Linked DNA regions of Homo sapiens: region 1 is linked to region 2. A link means that fine-mapping ties the variant in region 2 to the expression of a gene that starts in the linked region. Tissue or cell type: whole blood. Region 2 holds a variant in brackets; the other region holds the start of a gene. All regions are shown on one strand. Distances are from middle to middle.

Evidence for each region. PIP is the estimated chance that this variant, and not a neighbour inherited with it, causes the effect.
Region 1: PLCL1 starts here. The variant in region 2 is fine-mapped to the expression of PLCL1 in whole blood (INTERVAL, PIP above 0.99).

What each region holds. Positions count from the first base shown.
Region 1 is chr2:197,799,668-197,810,291 of GRCh38, reverse strand. It overlaps PLCL1 (phospholipase C like 1 (inactive)), which reads right to left and starts at 5,699. Exons shown (of 6, transcript NM_006226.4): 1 at 4,953-5,699. The coding sequence starts at 5,192. It overlaps LOC105373828 (a long non-coding RNA gene), which reads left to right and starts at 5,746. Exons shown (of 4, transcript XR_001739850.3): 1 at 5,746-6,583; 2 at 8,473-8,554; 3 at 9,406-9,468; 4 at 9,925-10,624. RefSeq lists a silencer at 5,523-5,652.
Region 2 is chr2:198,092,482-198,103,105 of GRCh38, reverse strand. It overlaps PLCL1 (phospholipase C like 1 (inactive)), which reads right to left. Exons shown (of 6, transcript NM_006226.4): 4 at 1,746-1,821. Among named protein-coding and RNA genes, the nearest start is that of LINC01923, 280 kb to the left of the region's middle. The variant C/T (reference allele first, on the strand shown) is at 5,587.

The DNA.
Region 1 (10,624 bases), 290 kb after region 2:
GCTATAAGAAATCACATCAGAAAGACCCTGCAATAAGAAGCAACCACTTCTAAGGTGAAATGTGACCATGTTACTATGGCAATTTGAGAGAAAGTAACATTCTAACTGAAGTTGTGGGGATCATAAACCAAATCTACCTAAGAGGTTCATGCCATTCATGCAGCCAAATCACATCTCGGGAGGAGAGCCGCAGCTGAAGCCCCCAGGGCACACTCTCAGCAACCCTTACGGTAAAGTAAAGGCTGGCCAGCTCCTCTGGTTATTTCTCCAAAATCCATCCATAAGTTGGTTATTCGGAACTTTTAACACATATTTGTAGAGAATAAAATCTATAAATGCTGATTAATTCCTGGGTCAATCTACAAACGCCTATATAATCCATAGAGTGCCTAAAATTTTTAACTAATTTTTAATCACATTTAATTTCCCTTCATAACCGTCCCTATTTAAACACACACACACACACACACACACACACACACTTTCAGAGCTCCAAAAGAAGATTCCCCCATTTCCTTACTCCCCTAGATTTATATATATTCCTATGACCCAGGTATTTTTTCTGCCTGCGTATCAGCCTAAAAGAGAATACAATGCTTCACAAACTCCACTGTCTGCAGGGGTATGGGGAAAGTGGGCCTGGGGTAAAACAATAGGATGTAAGCTCCATATATTGACGCCAAGCAGAACACCTGCCAGATTGCTCTGTCTTTTCAAGTACAGCACAGGCCTAACAAAATAGCCAAAGACAGAAGAGGTTGCAATCCCTTTCTAGAATAATCAACCTCCAAATGTTCTGAACTGAAGGAAAGAAGGCTGAGAAAAGATAATGTACCCCACAAACCATAGGACCTAAGATGCGTACTCTTCTGTCACTATCTCACGTGTTCGGGCTGTTTCAAACCTAGAAGTGTTGATGGATTGTGGGACTTCTTGCATCTGAGAACCAGCCCAAGAGCACAAACTCTGAAATTAAGCAGACATGACTTTCAGTCATCACTCCACATTTTAACAGTAGCTCTCTGTGCCTTCCTTCCATACTTTAGAGAGTTTCCTGTGAGGTTTAAGTGATACAAACGTACGAAAGCTCCTAGTTTAGTATATGACTCACAGTAGTAGGCACTTAATGTGAACTGCATTCCTCTTGCCTCTCTGAGGAAAGCCATAATCTTGATAGGGGTCTACTGGTACCCAAGGGGCACCTTTAAGGCTTCAGTTCAAAAATCCACCATACCAGCCCAAGATGACATGAGAGAGTGAGACTCGCCATGATATAAAATAATGAGACATGAACAACACCCAAGTAGCTGCTCCAGTGCTGGTCTCAACACCTCATTCCCAACTCCCATCTTCATCCCCCACACCCATGTCCATGAGATCCAAGTGACAATTTCTATTCTTCCTTGCCTAGAGAATTTGTTCTTAAGTAGAACAAAAGGAAGTTGAAAAAAAGTAGAACCCGTCAATGTGTCACATACAATGGAAGAAAAATCAACTGCTATTTTTAAAATACACATGTAGCTCAGTTTCCACCAACTAATATAGTAAATAAGCTATGCTGCTTCCTATTTCCAAAACATTACAATTATTACTGCACTACAGCTATTTGGAACAGCATTTAATGTTTTGATTAATATAAAATGTACTAAAGCTTTTCTTCTTTGTGTACATTTCAATGCCAAATTTAAAAAAACTCTTGGCAAAACTGTGAAAAATGCATTTTCTCTCAATATAAAACATTTGCTATGTATTTCTTATATGATCTAGACTTTTTTTGGAAACTCATTTTTACTATGCTAAAGGGAACAAACCACAGGGCAGCAGATTATAGGGCTATAAGCAATAATCTAAAATGTTAAATATTTTAAATGCTATAAGTTTGATATCAAATACCAGATAAATAAATGGTCTTATTTCTTAATTAGAAATATATTCAAATGCAGAATAGTAAACAACTTTTAGAGATTATCAATACTGCAGGTATCCAACTTGTCATTTCAAACCACAAGTCATCAAGAAGAAATTAAAATGGATTCTATTGCATTATTGTGGTATATAACAATGCGCTTACCAAAAAACATGCAGCATTTATCAATGTCAATGCTGTTGAAACAATCACACAGAAAAATATAGGAAAAAGTAGACAGATTTTAAAAAAACTTAGTTTAATTCTCACATTGAACGTTTTTAAACCTAGGATTGGTTATATGTGGGGAAGAAACACAATGTCAGTAGAAAGAATTTCTGAAGATGCATACAGATAAATGTTGTCATTGTTTTCCTCAGCTCAGAAGAAAATTGTTTTTTCAACTAAACACATGTTTTCACAAATTATGGAGGGCAAATTTACTAAAAACATTCTTTTTATTAATATACAAGACAGTCTGTTTTCTGTCAGGATAGCACTATTCTGAAACAATACCTTAAATTGAGCTGACAAGAATTTAATATTTGATGATTCACAACCTTTCAGTGGCTCAGCATTATGAATATCAATTATTACTGCACTACAGCTATTTGGAACAGCATTTAATATTTTGATTAAAATGTACTAAAGCTTTTCTTCTTTGTGTACATTTCAATGCCAAATTTAAAAAAAAATCTCTTGGCAAAACTGTGAAAAATGCATTTTCTCTCAATATAGAACATGTGCTATGTATTTCTTATATGATCTAAACTTTTTTTGGAAACTCATTTTTACTATGCTAAAGGGAACAAACCACAGGGCAGCAGATTCAAGAATGTCACCAGAAAGGTTCTTGATCTCAGAGACGGAGTGGAACAGAGCTTACCACCTGCCTTTTTTTCTCCTTAGAAGGGCGTTAAGGCCTCTGGGAACAGACCCCAATGACTGCTGCCCACCAAAGACCTACCAGATTACCCCCTCTAGGCTTCAAAAATGCTTAAAACTATGAGACTTGTAAAACTCTAGCCAGATTTTTTTGTAGAAATCAGGAGCTGCTATAGTTCATCATAGACACATATAGATATATCTGCTTACACATGCATGGAATATTTTGGAAGCATACATAAGAAAGTGTTAACATCTATGAGGGTGGACTACATAAGTGGGAATGTGGAGTGTCTGAGGGTCTTTCCTTCACACTCCTTTGCAACATTTGATTTTTTAAATTATATGTATGTGCTACTTTTCCAATAAAAACCTAACATAATAATTCACTTTATTTTCTAATATCTTTAATTTTAAAGGCCATTTACCAAATGTTAATTGCATTTACTATTAAATAGGGGAAAAATCAAGTTAATATTCTGTTGTCTCCCTCCTTTTTTGTCACAAAAAGAAACTTCAAAACAAAAGAGGCACCATTACTCAGCAATGACCCTTCTGAGAATATAAACCAGCATAGTACAATTCACAAGTGGCAAACTCAGTTGCAAGAATTTGTATATTCCTTATACTCCATTACTTTTGTTTTTTACAACATTATAGAGCCGTTTGCTCTTTATTGTCATATATTTTAAAGTCTCTTGCAGTGCCTGTTTTACACACACAGGACACCATGTAGTATCAATACAGTAGAATCCAAAATGTATGTGTTTCCTAATTGTGATGTTTTTTAAGTTTGAAAACAGTGTGCTTTCTGACCTGTGGGTTAAAAACAAAATAGTAATTTCCCTTTGTCCAAATTCACACCCAGAATAGAACACTCCTGTTACATAATCAAAAAGCCACAAAATAACAGAAACTACTACAAGCCATTTGTAATTACCACCCACTCTTCTTTATATATTATAGAAACCTCTCCACTGATTTTAAACTTCCATGTGTCAGTGTTGGGAAAAAGACTTTACTGGAGCCACATTCTGTGGTTAGTCTACCTAAGCTGGTGCTGGGAGCTTGCAACATGCGTGATGCACTGGTTACGCAGCTTAACCCTGAACAGAGCTTTTGAATATATTAGTGAACCCAATAAATTCAATAGTAAGTAAAAGTCCATCTTTCATTGTCATTGAGGGATGTGTGTGTGTGTATGTACACACACACATATATACTTACATATATACATACATACATATCGTTTTATACTGACTGCTCCACCAAAATCAATTTTAATCTGACATACATTTGATTGATTACTCACATGCATTTACACTGAGGCCCTTTTCCAGAGCCTGTGCGAGGGTTCTTTCCTAAATAACCTTACCCCAAAGTCATGCTCCCAAAAGAGGAAATCTCGAACAGAAGAAACAAGCCCCAAGTGGAAGGAAGATGGAAAGAGAAAGGGGAGGAAAGAGGTTTACAAATTCCTTGCCAAATGGATGGAGAGAAATTCTGTGAGGTGATTAGCGGGTCAGGAAGCGTTTTCCCTGGATGTGGTGGTAACCACAAGGACCAGTGATAATGCTTGGGGGATTGATTGCTTTCCGGTTGTGCTTTCTGCAGCGCAAAAACTCTGGGCTCTTGCATTGCTCTTTACTGTGATGCAGGGTCCACTTAAAACTCTGCCTCCCTACCGGGAAAGTTCACACATCTTGGGATTTCGGGATCATTTAAGTCTAGAGGGATTCTTTTTTTACACTTGAGAGTAAGCTGTGCATTTTCTTCATTGTATGGGAAAAGCTAACCCTTCATTGGAAAGCAATGCACAACCATCCGGTGGGTCTGCATTTATCCAGAGTTCTCCCTTCCTCCCTCCATCAACGGTTTAGTGAAGCTTGCAGAGAAAATGAGGGAAAGCATCCATCAGAACGCAAAGACGCAGAGCGGAACTTTTCCTCTGCCGTCAGTGGGGAGAAAAAGTCACTTGTGCGTCTCGTGGCTGACAGCTGAGTCTGGGAACCTCCGGATAAGGAAGGAAGGTTTGGCGTTGAAGGAGGTGGGAGAAAACAATGCTGAGCCCGGATGCCTCCGGACACCGCACATCCTGCCCGGGTCCCTGACCCACCCATCACCCACAGCCACGCTCCCGGTGCGGCGCGGCTTTGCTTACCTTGATGATGCTGCTGCGCCGGGGGGTCGCCCGTGCTGCCTCCAGGAGGCCCGCCTCGCTGTCCGCTGGGGTCCCCGCGGCGCCTGGCAGTGCGACCCCGCTGCGACGGTCCCTCATCCGGCCCCCAGAGGCCGCCGTCACGCAGTCCCCGGCGGCATCCGGGCCCACTCGGGGGTCGTCTTCGCCCCCCGCCGCGTCGGGCGGCGCCGGATCCTCCCTGCCGGCCGCGCCCTCGGCCATGGCCTGGAGCGTTTAGGGCTCCCCGGGGGAAAGCGGGACGCCCGGCAGCGGAGTCCAGCCGCTAGGCACCGGTGCGCTCCTGCACCGGGAGGCGGCCCCGCCAGACTTTGTTTCACCGCCCAGCGGCGGCAGTGGCGGCGGCGGCGGCGGCGGCGGCAACTTTCTGGAGAGGGGACATCGCTCGGGCAGAGACGTCCTCGGGCTTCGGTCTAGGAGGCTAGCAGTCCGGCGGGGGACGGTGGCGGGAGTGGGGAGGCGATGTGAGCGGGAGGCAGAAGGAGAGGCGAAAAAGAGAGGGAGGTATCCGAAATGTGATGCAAACGCCGGCCCTGCGCCAGACAAAAGGCACCGGGCGCCCAGCCAGGCGGCCTCTGGAGCCCGGACGCCGGCGGCCCGATAGGGGCCAGAGCCGGGCGACTGCGGCCGGGCGCACCCGCCACCTGCCCGCGGACTGCGGCGCAGCGGTCCCAGGAAGTGCGGCGGCGGCGGCGGCCTCCACTCAGCTCTGTTGTGACAGGGAGGGAGACTTGTTTTGACAGCCCTTGGGGATTGGCAGGCGTCTGGGCCTCTTAGGAGCCTCGCCTCGCCGAGGGGGCTCGGCCCGACCAATCCTCACTGCGGAGGGGTGTGCCCGAGCGCGAAGAATGGAATGTGTTCTGCAACTGGGAGCCGGCCCAGCGGGGCTAATGTACTCGAGCCAGGGTGTACCCGCGCGCGCGCGTGTGCAAACCCGGAGGCGCTCCGTGTATATTTTAGGAAGTTTAGATTTGCGAAATGAGCCTGAGATGCAACAAAAATCCAGGTTGGGTGAAGGAGAGGGGAGAAAGAAACCTTCTTCTGCCAAACAAAGCAATTTGGAGGAAAGTGGGTATTGAGTATGAATGTCTAAGCGTTTGGGGTGACGGGGTGAAGCTTTGCGTGGTCACAGGTTAATTGCAGGCTCTCAGGCCAATTCTTAGAAGTCAAGTCCATGCAGAGATAAACTAGGGTTTACTGGGATCTTGGGGTTCCATAATTTGCTTCAGGTTCCAGGAAAGGATTCTAAGGTCATTCTGCAGTGTGAGTAAATATAACAAGGAAAGGGAGTCAGTGAAAGAGATGAGGGTGAAAGGAAACTGAACCAACTAAATCCCTCCGAAGACTGACTCTTAAAAAGCACAGATATAATCCAAGTCAGATAAATGCAGGTGGGGAGTTTAGTCTCTATCCTAAAACATTCCTATTTGACAATGGTTCAGCCTCCTTTCTCTATATAATCCTATATAAAAACATATTTTGCTCATTTCCAGTAAGCTAGCAACCAAGAAGGGAGAGATCTTTGGATGATGAGTTAAGTCACTGAAATTATCCACAGAATGCTCAGATGCAAACCATGGTCCTAAGGCTCCCTGGTAAGACAAAAGACTTGGCATTTTAATTTTAAACTCCTTTGATATTAGAATCTATATTAAACCTCACTTATAACATTACATTTTATCTTATTAATAATTTAATAATTTGAGATTTTACTTGTTCCTTAGTCTGGCTAACAGCATGAGAAATTATTCAGCATTTTAGACCAACAATTTGGTTTGAATCTCATAATTTTAGAGATATATGGGGATTTAGGGATCAACTAGGACATCATTTTTGTTTTACGGTTGAGACAAAGGCCCAGGGAGTCTTGTCTACTAGTTAGTGCAGGAGCCAAAATTAGAATCAGCCACCCAACTCCTCCGATAATCTCTTCACTACTTTATCTGTCTCCTCTGGGCTACAACCAGCCAGAACTGGCAGGGGCACTTGGGAGGTTTCAGATTTGACATTTATCAACTACTAGGGAATACTGAGAAGGCTTGACTTTGCCTTTTCTTTAAACATAAATGCAGCCTAGTAATGAATGTACTGTAGAGAGTAGCAGTGACCTCTGGTTTTAGAACCAACACCACCCTCTAGTGAGATTCTGAGAACTGCATCCATAACAGCAAAGGCTTCTTTTTCCCCCTCATCTTTAAAAGACAGGAGGGGTAACCCAACAAAAGTTTCCTTTTCAACAGGTATGCCTTTACAACGCACAGACTAGAGGAAGAAAATAAAGTGTACCCAGACTTAAAACAACCATACATGTCTTCCATCTCCTTTAGTTCAGGGAATTCCTGTCTATGCTATATAGGAAATATTTTTAATTGCTATCCTCAGAAATATATCTTATTTTAGGCTATCATTTTTTTCTTTGATATTCAACTATTATTACATTTGACTTCTGTCATTTACAGTTGTCAGTGCTTCATTTTTCTTTGTTACTCTAATAAAAGTCCCATTCTTCGGTTGTCCTCTGAAAAATGTAAAACTGCCTTTATCTCACTCATTATCTTGTTATAGGATATTAATGTCATTTATAAGTTCCTCATCCTACAGATTTGTGTACCATTATGATAATAATTTATTTTTACAAATTTTAAAATTAGCATCACTTTATTAACAAACATTCAAGGTCAGTGATTTAAAAAAAAACAGAGGCCAGAAAGTACAGCATATAACTTGCAAAATGTTGTATCTTTCAACTAGACAATGTCTAGTTGGACTCTTTTCTCTTCCTTGGCATCCTTCCCTCTCACCCTCATGTGAAAGTGCACACACACACACACACACACCCCTCTGATTCCTTTGCTCTGAGCCTCTATCCGTAAAGATTGTTGTCTAAATTACTCTGCTTTGATAAACTAGTTGGACCCTAATCTAGCAAGTCGTTTATATTGTTGTGTTCCAGCATAAGCTCAGAAGGCTTTTCCTGATACTCATGTTTGCAATTGAAAAAAAAAAAACCCCTCCTATGTACTTGCTCCTAGCCAGGAGCAGATTCTGCTTTGTGGACCCACTTCAAAAACTGAAAGAGACTAGCTAGTTTCAGTTAAGTCAGCAGCCATGGGCACATTCCTACCCCTGCATTAACAGTCCCTCTTTCCAAATAGCTGTCACCTACAATTCTTGCCTCCCAACCTTTTACCAAGTCATGGTGACAATTGCTAGATTGGCAGATTGGAATTTGGGGGTGAGCAGGGGTAGGAAGGTAAGATATGAATAATAGTAACGAGCAGGAAATTCAAATGTTACTACGTCAGAAAGGACTCTCTAACTACAAATCTCAAGTTGCCCCTACAAGCCTCAGTACATGTCAGTCATATTGTGTTTTGTCTTCTCACAGGATTTTATCACTGTGAACAAACTGTCTTTTCCGTGGAATTGTTTACTTACATATTCTGTTTTACTTTCCCCCTATCTCTGCTTCACTGAAATGTAGAATGCCATCTCCATGTGCCTAAAGACCTTGCGATTTTATTCATTGCTGTATCTCCAGCTCCCAGAACTATGTCTGGAACAGAGTAAGTGCTCAATAAATATTTATGGACAGAGGACTTTTGCAGTCCTGTGACTAAATAAAATAATCAATCTGATAAAGAAAAATGGTTCTGTCACTGTCTGCATGGTAGAACTTCTCATCCTCAAGGATCCTAGAATTCCATTTTAGAGCAGAAATCAGAACAGATCCACACCAAGCAGCTACAAATCTCAGAAGAAGGGCACTTATTAATTGGAATGACTTGAAATCTAGAATTAGACTGAAATACAACCAATAAGAACTAAGCAAGTTCTAGCAGTCCTGAAAATACCTAGACCAGACTAAAAGACTAGATATGTCAATATAGTCCTTCCAGCCAGGGAAGTCCAGAACCCTGGGCCTGAGAAAAAACCAGTGAGAATATTAAGACTTTCCATATACTACCAGGAAGTCATAGTGGGGGGAAAAGAACTATCTCTTTGATAACTGCTTTCTATGTACCAGATAATCCTCTCTGCAGTATTCTGATCTCCACTTCACAGATAAGAAAACTGGGGATCAAAAGGGTCAAGTAGCTTGCTTGAAGTTAGAGCCAACTAGGAAGTGAAAGAACCAGCATTTGAGGCAATGTTAGTGACTTCAAAGCCTGCATTCTTCCTGCTACCCAAAGCTCTCATAAGATACAAGTCCAGTAGCTGTCCTGGAGAATGAAGAGCCACTCCTTCAGATCTGGGACCACTCATATTAACCATGACAACCTCCTCTCTCAACATCAACATGACCTTTATGTCATCAGCATGGACCACCAGTATGACTGATTCATTAGTGCATGAGGAAACACATTTATCATCTCATTCACATATGTGTAAGAAAAATATTTTTATATTGAGACAGGTCTCCTAATAAGTTAAAGGACGCATTGCACGTAATCAAAGAAGAGGACATACAGCATTTTCAGTTAAGTTGCATGCATCTTTACATTCAGTCATAGCCCTCCCCAATATACATGGTGATCATTTTGTTTTGCTAGCTCAAGAAAACAGAATTTGTAGGGTAATTTGTAGAGTGAATATTATAGTAGAGTAAATACATACAAGTCAATAAAAGATAAGCAAAACTTGATATATGACCTCTTTGAAATTCAAGTTTTTTCTTGAAAGTTTTTGTCACTTATATTAGGAATTAAGAAATTTCAGTAACTAAAACATAAAAATCAACTAATCTTATTTCAAAGAACAAGTAAAGTGTGCTCCATTATAACAGTCCTACAAAAATGAGAAGTTACAAATTGCTTATAATAGGTCTAGATTCCCCAGTTTAATAAATCTTTAAAGTACTGAGAGGCAATGAATCTAAGAAATCTTTAATTACAGCCAATGTTCTTCAATGTCTGATTACTGCTGCTTCTTTCAGAGGTTGAGAAATCTCTACTGTCTGCAGGAGAGCAGAATGCCTGGGCCTCTATCCATTAACACCATTCCCACAGGAATTACCCCATGAAGACCCTGGGGCTAAGGCACTATCAGGAGCTCCAGGCCAATCATCTGGCAGTAGTCTGTATTGTGCATGGCAAAGGTCTTTTAAAAATAGACAGTGTTGATTTATTTTCTATGTATTAACTTACTTTGACGTGGATCCTGGAGTTGGAGCTCATGTCACGGTTTTTTCCCCCACTGATGCAGAAGCCAGAGGCACTTAGGAAAAGTACCACTGAAATGGCACAAATAAGGCCCCCATAAAAACTTGATTCTCTGTTTTATTTGACAACCGAATCTTTTCCAGGTACAACGTTATGACAGAAATCTTTTCAAACCAGATATACACCCAATGCCTGACATTTTCAATGCAGAAGTGAATATACAGTAGGTTCCTCCTCCCCTCGAGCCCCCAAATCCCAGGTACATTCCTCAAATCTAAATCACCTACACGATGTTGGGGTTTTTAATCCTCCAACTTATACCAAGGTATGAAGTTTATTAATGCTTTTTAGTGTCACAGGGCCCATTGGAAGAAACTGCAGAGTCATATTTCCTTTTCTAATGCACTTCTTTTCTCCACTCATAATGTGTAAGACTCTTACACCTATTTTATAGACTTTATTGATATGCCTTTG
Region 2 (10,624 bases):
TGGAACCCACATAGATAACAATGAGTAATCAGTAATGTTGGCTAAAAATAAAAAGGCTTTTTTAAAAATAGCATTTTGGGAAACACCCAAGTATTTCAGATTTGGGAATGACCTTAAAGTATTTTTAGCTCAACCATCTGCTCGAGCTTGAAGATTATGAAAACCATCACCATCACATTTCTTCAGCCTTTGTCTTAGCACCTTAAAGATGGAAATCATATTCTCTTATGAACAGCTCATTCCATCTTCAGAAAGCTATGACTGACATCAAGCCAAAAATCTCCTTCCTTGGAACTTCTACTCCTTGGTGCTAGCTGGACACAGACCAAAAAGGTCTAAACTCTTTTCTACAGTGCAAGCTTTTAGATATTTGAAGAAAGATATTGGGTAAAATCCCTTCAAGTCTTCTCTCAGTTAACCATTCAAACATATTCAGCTTGCCAATGAAACTCTTCTTTAAAGATGGCATCCAGGCAAGGCCACTGCATTGCCCAGTTTCCTGGAGCTGAGCTCTGTGGGAACTTGCCTCCAGGAGTGAACGCTGTACTCAAAATGGGCTTGGAGAAGCCTACATGAGGTCAGGGATCTACCACCATTCTCCTTGTTCTAGTTTTTATATTTTTATTAATGCAGCCTAAGACCACGTTAACTTTCCTGGTGCTAACATCACAAACATAGCACATAGTAAAGAACATGAGTGTGGAGCCCAGCTCTACCACTTACTAGCTATGTGAGTCTCGGAAAGACCCTGACATCTCTGGTCTTCAGTTTCCTCACGGGTGACATGTGGTTAACAAGTGGGTTTACCTCATGGGACAGAGGTAAAGCTTAAGTCAATCAGTACATATAAAGATCTCAGAGCAGTGCCTGGCATCATGTAAGTATCAGGTATTATTATTTTTGTGCTTCCTGTCAACAGAAATATCTAAGCCTGCTGGTCAGCCAGTGAAAAGCACCATTTTAAAAGTTTGGTCTGGATTCAAAGGGCAGCTCCACCGCGTGTTGATATGGCACCTAGGGTAAGTCACTCAGTCTCTCAGAATCTCAGATGCCTCATCTATAAATCGGATATAATGATGATTACTTTGCAGAGTTGTCATGAGTAAGATAGTGTGTGTGCTTGGTATAGCATATGCAATGTATCAAGCAGTTGCTACTATTGTCATCTTCCTCGTCATAATCATTATCGGGTATGTGGATAGAGAAGGTTGTGGATCCAGGAGATGAAAGCACAAGGGTGTGGATGAAGGTGAACAGAAATAAACAAGTACACTCTCACAGATATGTGACTCATCCCATACTTAAAAAGAAAGAACAAATCTAAATCTAAAGTGAAGACTAGTAATGGGGCAAAAGCCTGGAAGATTAATAGGATTTTGGTTCCAATTGTAAAATTGAAGTGGGTTTTAAGGGACTGTATGGAACCATAGCTTCAATACCAGCAGTAGAAGGTTTTGATGGGGTTCCAAACCACAAAACTAGATTCAGAAACCCTCATCCCTCTAGACTTCTTCAGACACCACCCCAACCCTGTACGCTCACATACAACCCACCTATTATCACTTGGATTTCATCTGTACTAAACAAAGACTAAAGTGTAACTTAAAGTATAGTTAAGCATTGCTATAAAATAACTGCATTTTAAGAGAAGCAGAAAGTTTCTGAAAAAAAAATCTACCAAGAATTATTATAGTTTCCAAACAAAATAGAAAAAAAAAACAGAAAAAAAAATTAAAAACAATTACCTGCTTTCTGACACTGTACAATCTTTTCCTGGACTGTGTCCGCCATTTCTATGAGAAACCGGCTCTCTTGAATCATCTGTTACAAAATAAACATCAAAAAGGTGGTTGTCAGAATCCTTGAACTGGCTCATTGGGAAGACGACATACAGAGAGACCCACATGATACCTCCAGTAAAAGTAAGCCATAGTCTCACCACAACAGATGGGAGGGAGAAGGATAAGCTCTGTTCCAACCCCCATCCATCCTAACACTGAGGCTAGTGTCACCTTCCTTATGATTACTCTCTTGTGTAACATGCTTGGCACACAGTGGGCACCAAATAAGTAGCTGTCAAATAAATGTATATACATTCCTTATGTCCCAGGTCATATTCATAAATACCTAATTCCACTCCCTTAACATCAAAGATTACTGCAATATCAAGGCAAGTGGTATTGGAACATAATAGCAATGAGAACCAGAATAGGGTTTTTTATCCTTCCAGAGGCAGCAAAGTCACCTTTAAAAATATTATCTGCTCCATTTTATCCTCCCTGTCTCTCCCCCACCCCACTCCCACCAAAAAAATGAAGTATCTCCTATCTTCTCCGAATTCTCTCAAGCAGCACTCAAAGGTGGGCTTGAAGTCCCACTCAGCTACCAGTAGGTTCTGGTCCTTCTGATCTCACTCCTTCCTAAGTACCACTTCCAGAATCATCATCCAAAACTACAGTACTAATTCCTGGCTTTGTCATTTTCTCCCTTGCTTACTGAATGAAGTAAAATTTTTCTAACCTAGAACTATGGTGTTCCAGTTCCCCTAAGTCTCAGTTGACATGGATGAATCACGCTTCTCTAAACACACCCTACTTGTTCCTCCTCCCACACATTTCTTTCTATTAGGGAAACTTTCTTAAGCCATCTGCCCTGATCAAAATCCTGCCAGGCCTCAAAGCTCACTTCAGTGCCCTCTCCTCTATTAGTTTCCTGATTTCCCCTTCTGTCTCCTTCTCACTCCCCATATTCCCAAAACATTCTATTTTTTTAAATCTGTTCATGGAATTTTTTTATTTTCTATCTTATGATTTATTCTTTACCTATATTATTTCCATCTTGTTACTTCTCCAGTAAATTGTAATTCCAGTAGAGCAGGGACTCAATCTTATTCAGCTTTGTATTCCCAGATGCATCCATCCATTTACATAATCACTTTTTTCCCCGTTTTGCTTTTGTGATACTTATTTCTTCTCTCTGTCTGCTACCCACATATGTGTGTGCAATAAAACATTTTATTTATTACTGACCACTTCTCAAACTTGTAATTATCTTTTTGAACTCCCATCTCTCTTTTTGTCTCTAGATTTCTCCACTCTTATTTTTCCTAGGCTTCCTCATTTTTCTGTAATTTTGTATGCTCTTAATTCTCTTTCAAATTAAGTACTGAAAAATAAGCATAAAGCTTTTAATAGGATTACCCCTGTAGAAATATAATACTCAAACATCAGAAAGTAAAACAAATGTTAAAACTTTATTACATGCTTATTTGAGGTAAAATAAATTTAGGATCAAAACATACTCCAAAACCTTATAGTTCAAGTTCTTCTCAAAAGCCCCCAAGTAAATATTTGTTAACCCCATGGTATAAGTTGTTTCTGTTTTTCCCATTGTCTAATAAACGTCATAAAGAGATAATCGAGTATAATTTTACCTCAAAACAAGCTTCTGTTTGAGATTCCTCAGAAATAACCAGAAATCTTTTAGTAATAAAAGTCTCAAATTGTGTCCTCACATATCTTATCATTAATATTCTCAGAACATAAAATCATTGCTCATATGAAATTGTTTCATAAGGGGATTTGATTTTTCTCTCTGTCAACAGCTTCTATTGTATTGAGAATTATAAATTTATTCTATTTTCTGCAGTCAGCTTTCAATTATTAGTAGCTATAGAAAAAACAAATGAGATGAATAGCTAAAATGTACCAATAATCCAAACCACAATTTAAGTCAAAAATTTCAAATTTTCCTCTCAACTAAGTAATTTATCTAAGTTGTCAGGGAGAAAAAATGGTCGATTTGAGTTTCACCTCCTTCCAAGATCTCTAAATGATACTGATGGAAATAAAATACAAAGCGCAAAAGCCAAGCAGAGAAGGTGAGAAGATGTCCTCAGATAATCCCTGAGCCGGGAAGTCAGCACGACTCAGCCATGACGGCTGGGTTGATTCAGTCGATAGAATCTGGCAGTGGCCTGATTTACATATCTGATGTCTCAGCCTGAGCTGCTAGTTGCCTTTGCCTGTTGTAGTAATACAAAGAGCTTTTCTCTGGTTCTGTCACATGAATATCTCCTAATGGATCTTATTTCCTTGTCAGGGCTTTGTCTCTAAAAGAATAGAGGACTTGCCCAGATAAAGGTTGACATTACTTTATGCATTAGATGTATCCAGAGCAGGGGTGTGTAAAGTTACCCTTTAAGAGTAAAATTATGTCTTTAAAAAGAAAACTTTACTGAAGGGGGCAGTGATACTGTTACTCAAAGATGGATTAAATTGTCCAGCTTTTGTGAAGAAACTATCCTTCCAGCTCTTACCAGTAAGAAGTTTAACTAATTGCCCAGAATCATTGCAAAGTCAATGTAATTATTTAATAATACTGAAAAGATGCACTTTCGTCATATTAGGACTCAAAAATCTTGCATAGATTCCCATTTTATCCTGAATTAGACCTAAATTCCTAGAACCACAATCTTTCTACTTAGAAGTTATCTTAAAGACAGTCTATCATGGACAACCACATTTTATAGTTGAAAACCCTGAGCTAAAACTTAGCTTGCTTAAAGCCACACAACTAGCTAGTGAAACAATTTAGACTAGAATCTAGGCATTCTTGAGGAGCAGACCATATTAAAGTGTAGAATTCCTATTGCAAGTGCAAGTTGGTAATAAACAATAAAGTAACATTCATCAAATTAAGCATCATGAAAATAAATTTTGCCATGACTGCTTTTCCCTCCAAGTCTAATTCACAACATGCATCAATCATGATAAACATTTTTTCATATGAAACATAGGAAGAAATGTATTTACTTGAGTCCTCTGTTTTTTCAGGAAGGAGTTAGGAACTTTGGAGAAGCTATTGCTTGAGAAAATGTGAGTCAATAAAAAGCTAATCTACTCTAGACTTTTTTTGTCCTCTCCTTTTCAGAACACTGGAATAATTCCTCTAGCTCTTACTTTCCTTCTAAGCAAAAAAACTAGGTTTCGATTCTATGGTTCTGCAGTGGCTCATCTTTTCAGATCATTTAAAACAAGATGACTCTTATTAAACTTGGTACATTTGTAAATCAGATTGCTCTTACATATATATTTGCTAACTAGAATGAAGATTATTTCCTTTCATTCTCAAGTTCCTTAAATATTTAAAATGAAACAAATAAAAGCATTGCTAATAGATTGGCATGTTGTTTTTAAGCAATCAAGCCTGTCAGTGTGGTCAACTCTCGGTCATACAGAAACAAGTGTAAAGTCAGAATATTTGCAAGTTCACTGGAAGTCCACTGCCTTTGGTGTATGCAACAGAGCTCTCTGTCCTGGGACTAATGCATCACATTTGCAAGCCTGATTTGTAATGGCGCAGGACAAGTGAACTTGCACACAGCAAGTCAGAGGACGTTTGTCTCCACATTCACAATGGTGACAAAATCTACTTCAGGGGGCCCTTTTGGCATAAACAGATCATTTTTTTTCTCTTGTTGTTTTGTTCCCCAAACAGTTGTCAGCTATACCTTGAGTAGTCATTAGAAATATTTGTTTTTATCCAGCTGTCATTACGATTTAACTCCTTCATAAAATATCCAGA[C/T]GAGTAGCCTTAGTAAACCTTCTCCAGAATTTTCAGGCCAATTTGACTACCTTACTACCTTTAACCAAAAGTGTTACAAAGCCTGAGGATTCAAGAATGCAAAGCCAGCTTTGAGTATGCATGGACAAAATTCCACAAAAAAAAGCCAACCTGAAATACTTGCTTATGGATATGTATCTCTGATATCCATGGTCCTAGAGATCCTGGTACCAAGTAGAAATTTTGCCACTCCTCAAGATGCTGATAATTTTCCCCTTACACAGAAAATGTGTCCAAAGACATTGCTGTACCCACATGTGAAGGAAGTTTCCATACCCCAAGAATACAGCATCTTGTTTTTAAACACCGAGCTCTGTTTGGGCACATGCCAGCAGACAGTTCTTTTTTTAGGTTCTATTACTATACAAGCAAAGATACTTCTTGAAATGCAAACTAATAGAGTTCCACACAAACTTCACAATAAGAGACAGTGATGGAATGAGACTATCTTTGACTGAATCCAATTTTAATTTAAATGGATTTCAATAAGCAAAACTAAATCGGGGAACTATAGACATAACTACAACTCTTTCCCATCCTGAGGCTGAATATATACTGGTTATAACACTGATATAACAGAATGTATTTAAGCCAACCATTATGCCTGGCTTAACTGTAATACTTACTAGTGTATTCATTCCATTGCAAGCGTGATTAGACAGCAATTAGCTCTTTTTTGCTAGATTCCTGCTCACTCTAGCACTATCAACTGCTCTCCAAATCACCCCCAACTGACTTAGTAAAAGATTAAATAACCCTTGACTTATGTTCTCTAGATTGTTTTGATTTCCTTTTTTTAACAACAAATTTAAAAAAAATTGTTCTTACCATAGTAAAGTTTTAACTTTTATGTTAATGTTAAATAAGGTAGCACAGAAGTCACCTTGGAGAATGCTTTGGGCTTATTTCTTACAGTTGCAACCTCCTGTAGCTATTCCACTTCAGAATGATATATTTAAGATATTACCCAAATATTTTTCATAACAACTTAAAATAATGGAAATGATCAAATATATTAGGAAAATACTTCTTGACTGCATGAAAAATTAGAAAGGTGAGAACACTGAAAAGGAAAAGCTCGGCCATCTAAAGAAGAAAGTATATAAAGTCAGATAATATTTTTCTTTCAAATGTATTTGGAAATAAAATTCTGCTGAGTACCAGGTGGCAGAGGTGGTAGAAGAAGTGTGTTATAAGTCACTGTGAAAAGTCTATCATAGGACTAAATGATCTAAGACTCCAGCTAAGGACATAAAATACCATGTGGTCAACTCTCTGAACACTGCGTGTGACTACTTCCCTTTTTAGGTGTAAGTCCTCCTTTCCCATCAGGGTTGCCCATTCCTCAAGGACAGAAGTTTTGCTTCATACTATTTCTTTCTCTAGCACCTTGCACACTGCCTTGCACATAGTAGGCATCCAAAATATTCTTGTTTAGTTGAATAATTAAAAGCCTAAAGACATATACAAAATGGCATATCAAATGAGAAAATGTTATTTTACAAGTGGCAAATATATGTGTTCCTACACATTTTCCTATTTCTCTTGAGTTACAGAACTGTCATTCGTTCTATCATGACTATCTGTGCTGATTCCGTCTCTGCTTATTCATCTTTGGTTACACAGAATAAAACGTAGAAATGTGACTAGAGTAAAACATTAGGGCTGGAGCTAAGTCTACATGCATAAAAACACGATTGCAGAATGAAAAAAGTCAAACCAATTCAAACAAACTAGTTTTGATAGTGCCCTACTAAAATTACAAAATGTTTTCCAGTGTAATCCCCTGCTATTACAACTCCATGTTAAATGATGAGTAACATATTCACATCCCCAATAGTAGACTCCTAGGGCTGGGTAGTACCTCACCAGGTTACATCTCCTGCTGGTAAGCTGCTGAAGCACAAGATCTGCTGAACCTTCCACAACATTTAACGCAGTGGCTTGCACATTAAAAGGAGTTCAGAAAATGTTTATCAAATTAAACATCTCCATTTTCTGGCTATAACACTAAGTAACTCTTTCTGTAACCAATTTTTACTCTTAACAACACCCAATTTAAGATGAATCCTAAATGAAAAAAAGTCATATTACTTTTATTTGCAAAATATAATTATATGACATTATCAGCCTTAAAAGACGATGACTCTGTGACTATACTACCTACTTCAGTGGGATATTTTTCCAGAGAAAGTAAAAATCCAGAGTGGGGAAGTGATGCTTGCTCTTTCAGAGACCTGAGCCAAAAAAGAAGAAGAATCGCAGTAAAATAAATGGAAGAGTCACTTAGAAATGGTCTTCTGATTTCAAATTAAGCTCCAGGGACAGTTTCTGGAAAACTTTCCTGATGAGCAGAGGGCCACTGAAATGGCACTGTGGTGAACAATCCAATGCCAACAGCTCTTCTCTTTGTGTATTTAGCCTGCGAAAGAGGCATCCATTCTACCTTCGACTTTTAGAGCCTTTTCTACTTGCCAGAGTTATTGATTGATAGTGCTCCCAGTTCCCTCTAGTGCTGTTTTAGAAGCTGTACACTTCCCACCTCCAGCCGTGACACGTTTTATATCAGCAAAGTCATCTCTGCTTCAGTTGCACAAAATACTAGATAGGCATTTACATGGCAACATCCTATTGAGAGTATTAATGGTAACAGTAAACAGGGCTGCCCGTAAGCAAATTGCAATTCTTTGAGCAACCCCACCTTCACCTTACCCAGACTTGGTGAACCCTCTGTCATTACCATCTCTCGCTTCTCCCAGGTTAAAACCTGCTTGTAGAACAGGATCTGCTAAATTTACTCGAAAGTAAGAATGAATTACTGATAACCCAGTGTGTTATTACTCACAGGGATGTTGCTGCATTTTAAAAAAGATAAAAAGTCTTAACCCTAGGGAACTGGTTGTAATTTTGAAATTTCAAGTCCCAGGAAGCAGACAGAAAACGTATACTTTAAGTAAGATGTGCTAAGACAGGGGAGAGTGTGCCTTCCCTTTCTTCTGAAATTCTGCCACGTCAATAGGCCCATTTTGCTACAAATACATTTGATTTTTGATTTCTTGATACCAACACAGTTGCTATAATGGAATTATAATTGCAAGACTAATTTAAAAGGACTTTTAAGGCTGGGCACGGTGGCTCACACCTGTAATCCCAGCACTTTGGGAGGCCAAGGCGGGCAGATCACGAGGTCAGGAGATCAAGACCATCCTGGCTAACATGGTGAAACCCTGTCTCTACTAAAAATACAAAAAATTAGCTGGGCATGGTGGTGGGTGTTTGTTGTCCCAGCTACTGGGGAGGCGGAGGCAGGAGAATGGCATGAACCCAGGAGGCGGAGCTTGCAGTGAGCTGAGATCGCGCCACTGTACTCCAGTCTGGGCGACAGAGTGAGACTCCGTTTCCAAAACAAAAAGAGAGAGAGAAAAAAAATGACTTTTAAGACTGAATTTTAAAACCCTCAGGAGGAAATATTTTCAAATATTTAATGACTAATAAATAGTGGGATTTATTTATTTATTTATTTATAGTGGGTAATAAATATGGAAAGCTAAATTTAGGGGAAAAAATCTGTGCAGATGAACTCAGGGTCAGTGTTTTCTAGAATATTTTATTTTATTTTCCCTTGATAATAGTATAATTTGATGCACTCAAGTTTGCTTTCAACAAATGTAGGCTACCAAGTTGCCTGATTTCTTTCTTTCCATACTGAAAAAAGAAAACATTTGTATCTGTTCAGGAAAGATTTCAGGTTGTTTTTATTCTAAACATATTCTGCATTTTTTAGTGGTAACAATTTTTCCTCTTGGATGGCATCTACACAGTTCATTACCATTTTCAAGAAATCCAAAAATTTAAGCAACTTAAGTCTAAATTGAACCCAAGCTGTTCATTTTGGAATACCTTCTCCCCACACCAACCACACCACTAGGCAATAAATCTTGGATTTGCTTTTTTCCCTTATTCATCCAAATCAGTTTTTATTAATAGTCTGTGGTAGGTTGGGGGGGTGGTTAGACTGTATTTTTACGAGAAGTTTCAAGTTTGCATAAAAAGTAAATGGAAAGTACAGAGTCCTCACCCTCTAACTCTACCCCCACCTCCCAGTTTTCCCTACTGTTTACATTTTGCATTAGTGTGGTATATTTACTACAATTGACAAGCCACTATTGATACATTCTTATTAGCTAAAGTCCATAGTTGACATTAGGGTTGACTCTTTGTGTTGTACATTCTATAGGTTGTTGACTAGTGTATAATGACATGTATCTGCCATTACAGTTTCATACAGAATAGTTCCACTGCCTTAAAAATCCTTTGTGCTCCACCAGTTCATCCCTCCCTGACCCACTCAAAGGCCCTGGCAAATAATAATCTTTTTACTGTCTCCATAGTTTTGCCTTACTCTGTAAGTTTTTTAGCCAAATATAAGATAGGGAACAATTCAGCAAGGGTGGTGTCAGAGAGGTAAAATCAAGGGGATTTAATAATTTATCATCAAACATGTTCAGTTATAGGATGGAAACTACACGATTTTCACCAACAATAGATGCTTTTATTTATTGTTTTTACTCAGTGAACATTACCTGATAACGTGCTATGTGCCAACATTGTTTTGGGTGCCAGAGGTGACAGTAATAAATATACAGATAGGATCTAACCTCACGGAGTTTACATTCAAATTGAGGAGTAAAAGAGGACAGCAATTAAAAAGTTCAAGCAAAGTATTTTTCAATACTTCTAAGCAGGAAGATGGAAATAAAACATGGCTATGTGACAAAGGAATGTATGGGGAGAGTAGTTAGGGAAGGCTTTTCTGAGAAAATGACATTTGAGCTAAGAATTAAGAGATAAGGAGGAATAAATTATGGTGTTCCATTGCACAGTAGTGACTATAGTTAACAATAATATATTGCATATTTCCAAATAGCTAGAAGAGGTGGTGTCGGTGGTACAGTGGTAAGTACCTTGCAAAATAGCCAGAAGAGAGGATTTTAAATGT